2 separate regions of the Homo sapiens genome follow, and region 1 is linked to region 2. Evidence: fine-mapped expression QTL. A gene starts in region 2. The other region holds a variant in brackets. All regions are shown on one strand. Distances are between the middles of the regions.

Region 1 (2,903 bases), 35 kb before region 2:
ATCTTGGCACCTCCTTTTTCTCTAATCATTCTGTGATGTACAGGTCTGGCTAGTTAGGCTCCTGAAGTTAAAAGCTCAGCCACTATTTGTTGTTTTGTTTGATCTAGCTCTTTCTCACATGGTTTTAGGTTCTCCCAGTACTAATTTAATTGACATCAGATAGCTTGGGCACAACCAGATATGGCTTGTTATTTGTAAGTTACCATGAAGAGGTTTATGTTCACTGTCCTTTATTTCAGTGTATCAAAAGTCCTTTCGGTTTCATTCTTTCATGTTGTGAGCAGGGCTAGTTATTTGAGGCGCTCAATTTAAAAATGTATGTTTTTTTTTTACTGTAGTACAAGACTGTTGTAAGATACAGTATAGTTGGATAGAAAAGGAATTAAAAGATCTGGGTCTAGAATTAGCTTTGTCACCTGCTAATGATGGGACACTGAGCAAGTCACTTATCCTGTCTGTACCTCAGTGTCTTCAGTGGAAAACTAGAAACCATCATGCCTCCACAGAATTTTTAAATCTAATGATTTTTAAATCTAATGCTGTGTGCAGGCAGCTGTCAGTGGTCTTTATGAAGAAAAATCTGAGCTAGAAGAAAGCACTGTTGTGTTATGGTTAAGAGTAGAGGCTTTGGAGTCAGACTGACCTGGCTTTAACTTTCAGCTTTGCTGCTTCCTAAGCTGTGTGTCCTTGGCAAGTGTCTTGCCCAATTACCTTTTCTTTTAATAGAAATAACAATTTTTCATGGGATCTCTATGAGGGTTAAATAACCTAGTGTATATAAAGTACCTAGCCCAGTCTGTGCCCATAGTAAATATTAAATGAATGGTAGTTTGGATGATGGTTGTGATGGTGATTATAATAAAGTTCTAGAGTTTGACTCAGTGTTTTTGAGACAAGGTCTCATCCAGGCTGGAGTGCAGTGGTGCAATCATAGCTCACTGCAGCCTCGAACTCCCAGGCGCAAGCAATTCTCCCACCCTAGCTGCCTGAGTAGCTGAAACCATTACAGGTGTACATCACCATGCTCAGCCGATTTTTTTTTTTTTTTTTTAATTTTTTGTAGAGACGAGGTCTCACTGTGTAGCCCAGGCTACATAGTGAGCTCCTGGGCTCAGGCCATCTTCCCGCCTCAACTTCCCAAAGTGTTGGGATTATAGGCTTGAGCCACCATACTGGGCCTCAGTGTCTCATAAACTAAGGAGAGATAGCTATGGGAACATAGTCATGAAGATAATTATCGATTTCAGTGTCTTTACCCTGGCCTCCTAAAATCACTTGTTCCAAGCTCTGGTTTTTTTGTTTTGTTTTTTGTTTTTGTAAGAGCCCTCAGGTTAGTGATTCTCTCTGTCCCTCCTCTGAGTTGAATAGCATTATCTCAGCACTTCTGGGAGAGTTGTTAAGGAGACTTCCCCCTCCTTCTGGGTGCCCCTAGGGAAATCTGATTAAAAGATTTTTGTTTATCTAGAAAAGTGGGTGATATTTTAAAGCTTTGCCTTGTCTGTTTATGATCACAAGCTAATACTTCTGAGGATGATAAGGGGGACAAACAAGATGAAGAATAAAGGAAAGGAAACACTTTCTAATTTCTCTTCATTTTAACAACAGCACAACTAAATATTTGGTAAACCTAAACATCCTTTTAAAATAGAATCTTCCAGTCTTGCCTTCCCTGTTTCCTCCTGAGCTGAATAGATCAGGTTCTGTCTGAAGCAAATAG[T/C]GTTTCCCCTCCCAAGTGAAGAGCCTTCATTCTAGCTTTATGGCCTTCTCTTGACTTTCTGCAGAATAACTTATACTGTAATTCCCATTCCTTTGGGAATCCCTAAATAATTCTTTGAACTTGGGCCTCAAGGGAAAGACTGAACACATTGTACTGGTGTCTCAGGCTCTAAGTTGCCTGTGGCATGTTTCCAACACCCGAGATAGCTGGCTCTGTTACTGGATGTAACAACAGGCTATGGTACTGTCAAGGTGATGACTAGCATCCAAGAAGAATTCTCTATTTTGTCAGGAAAGCAATTTGTCTGCAGTTACTGCTCTAAAATCAGTACATGGTCCTGCCCCATAATAATTCATACCCCAGCTGTTGACTTTAAGAGCAGGAATCTGAAAGGCTTGAGGTTTCAAGAGTGAAGGTAAGGGTAGCCTTAAGTTAGCAGAAGGCCCTGCAGAAAGGTGTCAGGGGATTCCCACTGTAATACTCAGGTTACCCTTTTGAAATAAAGCACTGTTGTTGACAGGTTTAGTTGAAGGTCAGAAAGTGGGGATCCTAAACATCTATTCCACATTCACTCTCATATGATGCAAGTGCTTAGAAAATGGTTAGGGTAAGCAGAACAATTAAAGGAAAAACATTTTCCCTTCAGCATTGGGCTTCTCAAGCAGTGTGTCCAGTTTGGAAAACTGTCCCTTCAGGGTTTCAGTGAATAGAAGTGAAAATATTCCATCTAGTGGTCAAAGAAGGGAAGATGAAATGAGAAGTTTCCAGGATGAGGTCTGTGGGGCAAGGTGACAGGCAGTGGCCTCTCAGCAGGTATCTTTTCCAGAACATGATAGAACCTGACCTTGGCGGTGGTGATATGTTTTGATTATGTCTGCACTGGATGAGGAATTGGGGACACCATCCTTGCAAGGCCTCTGAGCAAAACTGTCCTCACAGTGAGGAATAATGATGTTGCAAATGGCAGATTATAAACAGCCTGACTCTGAAGGGAGGCTCTCTCCCATCCCCAACCCCTTCCTTCTTACAGAGGAAGAAATGAGTCCAGTCATTCCTGCCTCTATTTGTCTGGAGCCTGAATTTGTGAATATGTGATTTTGAGAAGAATGAGGGTGTAATGTGAACTTTATTTATTTATTTTGAGACGGAGTCTCACTCTGTCGCCCAGGCTGGAGTGTAGTGGCGC
Region 2 (2,903 bases):
CACCATGTGTCTGGCTGTGCTAAGCACTTAACAATCGTTATCTCATTTAATCTTGACAACAACTTGGCAGGTAGGTGCAATTATTATACCCGTTCTACAGATGAGAAACTAAATAAAGCTCAGAAGTTTAGGCAATATTCAAGGTTGCTTTGCCCCACAGTGAGGTCTCAGGTCTCTTGGACAATAAAGCTGGCTTCTTAACCAGAAGGTTCTGTTCCTCCTGGCTGTATCTATCTGCTCCTACTTCTCTCTCAGCAAGGAATGTGTGTTGGGGGGAGGGGGGATGGTGTGGACATGAATCCTCAAGAGGAAGCTGAGAGCTGGTGCCCATCCCTGATGGCAGCAGGGACTTCTAGGAGAGCATTCCAAATGGATGACCAGCCAGCCAGCAGGTGTTTCCAGGGGCCTGGGCAATGCAGAGGCTACTCCAGGGCTGACCCGGGTAGCAGCTGAGGATGAAATTCCCTCTACTCAGACTTCTCAGGGAGGGGGCCCCTCACAGCCTAGAAGCGGGAGACTGACTGTCTCAGAGGGGAGGCCATGGACCCATTCCTAGAATAAGTGACCCCATCATAGTGCTGTCTGGGATGCCACCGGGTCTTGTCCCTCTAACCACAGGCTCCAGCACTGCCAGATGAGAGATGCCCTCAGGCGGGTCCTGCCTGCCTTCTGACCCCTTGGTCTGGGCAGGTATTCCTGACACTCCTCCATCCTCTTTAGCCTCCCTCAGAACAGATGTCTCCTCTTCCCAGGCGCAGGGGCTCCTCACCCTATCTGTGTCCTCCCCCAGGTGTCCCACCTTGCGGCTTACCTTCCCAACTCTGCCCTGGAAACTCGATCCCTGTGGCCCCTCCGTACGTCCTCTCTTCCCCCCCTCGCCCCCCGCCGGCTCCACCTTGGGTCACCACAGAACCAAGGGCGCCTCAGTGACTCCGGTCTCCACCCTGACCCCCTTTTCCGTAGCAGAAGCTTTACTTCCCCTCCCCCTGGGGGTGTGGGGATGTTATTCCAGCGGCTACGATTCTTGCTACCCCAGCTCGGGGTACCCAGGCCTACACCAGCTCCCCTCACCCCCGGTTTCTCGGTTTGATGGGACGGAAGGCTTCCCGGCAAGAGGCGGGAGACCCCACCCCTGGTCCGGACGGCAGGCAGCAGGGACACCCTCACCTGCCAAAACCTATGCTCACCCCGAGATTTATCCCGGACTCCGGCCTCCGGCGCCACCGCCTCCAGCCGGAGGGGCTGGCAATTCCTCCCCAGCTGGGGACGGGGGCGGCGGGGAAAGGGGCCGCGGGCGGGGAGGGAGGGGCGCCCCGGGCCACCGCCCCTTACCGATGGTGGAGATGTGCGAGGAGTGGAACTCGTTGTCGGTGAAGCGGCACAGCAGGCAGGTCTTGCCCACCCCGGAGTCCCCGATCAGCAGCAGCCGGAACAGCACATCGTACTGCTTCGCCATGACTGGGGCCAGCGGGGCCGGGAACTGCGGGCGGGCAGCGGGCTCAGCCCTGCTCCGCCGCTGCCATCGCGGCCCGCGCCCGCCCGGGGACGCTGCGGGCGGCGAGGAGGACGCCGGGCCCGGCCCCCGCGGCTGCCTCGCCCGCCCGCCTGCCCACTCGCTCGCTGGGTGCCGGGAAGCGCGGCTGCGGCGGGAGCCCGGCGCGGCGCCCGCTCGGCTCGGCTCGGCTCGGCTGGGCTGGCGCGAGGCGGTGGGAGGAGAAACCGGCGGCGGCCCCTGCCCGCCCCTTCCCCTGCGCCGCCGCCGCCGCCCCGGAGAGAGGGGGCGGGGAGCGCGCGCAGGAGAGCGGGACCCCATCGAGCAGGCGACGCTGGGGCGGGGCGCCAGCCCCCCCTCCCAACCCCTTCCTGCCCGGGGCGGGGGAACGTTTTCGTTTTTCCGCGGACGCTCCGAATGGGGGAGTTGAGGTGAGCCCCCACCCAGCCCACTTCTACCGTGCTCCGCTTTCCGGGCTCACCACTTCTCCCCATATCCCACCCCAAGTCTGGCGCCGGTAATTCCGCCCGCCGTGGCACCCTGCATCTGCAGGATCTGGCCGGGCTCCCCAGTGGCTGGTACCTCAGCTGGGCTCACCCGAGGTAGGAAGGCCTTGAGCAGGATCTGGATTCGAACACCCGTCTCCATGAGTCCCCGAGAGTGTGGGTGGAATTCCCCCTCCCTGCCATCTGGCTGCCCCTTACCTGTGTGACTGTGTCACGGCCCTCCCCCGTCCCCATTTTTTCTTTAAATGGGGAAAATGCCTATTCACGGCCTCCACCAGGGTGAAAAGATAGATGGCCATAAGAACATCTCCAAGTGCAAAATCCTTTAGAGGTGTGCGGGCAAGTCTCCGTTTTCCCTCTAAGGTGCTTAGGATAGGTGCCCAGGTGACCAATGTATTGTTTCAGACCCCTAAATTTCTCTGTGGTATAGCCAGTGGCACCAAAGAATGAATGGCCCTTGTTCAAGATCCAGTTTCCTACCACTGAATGTGTTAGCACCGGAGAGAGGCAAATGAATGCTCTCCGGAGTTGAGAAAATTGCCTATCCCTACCAACGAGTATTGAGGGAGAGCAAAGTCTAGCCTATTAGGTCTTTAAAAAGCAATGAAAGGCTAGGCGCGTTGGCTCATGCCTGTAATCCCAGTACTTTGGGAGGCTGAGGCGGGCAGATCACTTTGAGGTCAGGAGCTGGAGACCAGCCTGGCCAATGTAGTGAAACCCAGTCTCTACTAAAAATAAAAAAAAATTAGCTGGGCACGGTGGCTCGCCTGTAATCCCAGGCTTGAGAGGCTGAGGTGGGAGGATTGCTTGAACCCATTAGGGGAAGGCTGCAGTGAGCCGAGATCATGACACTGCACTCCAGCCTGCGCAACAGAGGGAGACCTTGTCTCAAAAAAAAAAAAAAA

What was found. PIP is the estimated chance that this variant, and not a neighbour inherited with it, causes the effect.
Region 1: its variant is the best candidate, but not a certain one, in a credible set for the expression of RAB15 in whole blood (TOPMed, PIP 0.61).

Annotation. Positions count from the first base shown.
Region 1 is chr14:64,935,469-64,938,371 of GRCh38, forward strand. The region is part of intron 3 of CHURC1-FNTB (CHURC1-FNTB readthrough); the gene reads left to right. Among named protein-coding and RNA genes, the nearest start is that of GPX2, 5.8 kb to the right of the region's middle. The variant T/C (reference allele first, on the strand shown) is at 1,718.
Region 2 is chr14:64,970,621-64,973,523 of GRCh38, forward strand. It overlaps RAB15 (RAB15, member RAS oncogene family), which reads right to left and starts at 1,716. Exons shown (of 7, transcript NM_001308154.2): 1 at 1,333-1,716. The coding sequence starts at 1,456. All of the region lies in intron 3 of CHURC1-FNTB (CHURC1-FNTB readthrough), which reads left to right. RefSeq lists a silencer at 1,509-1,878.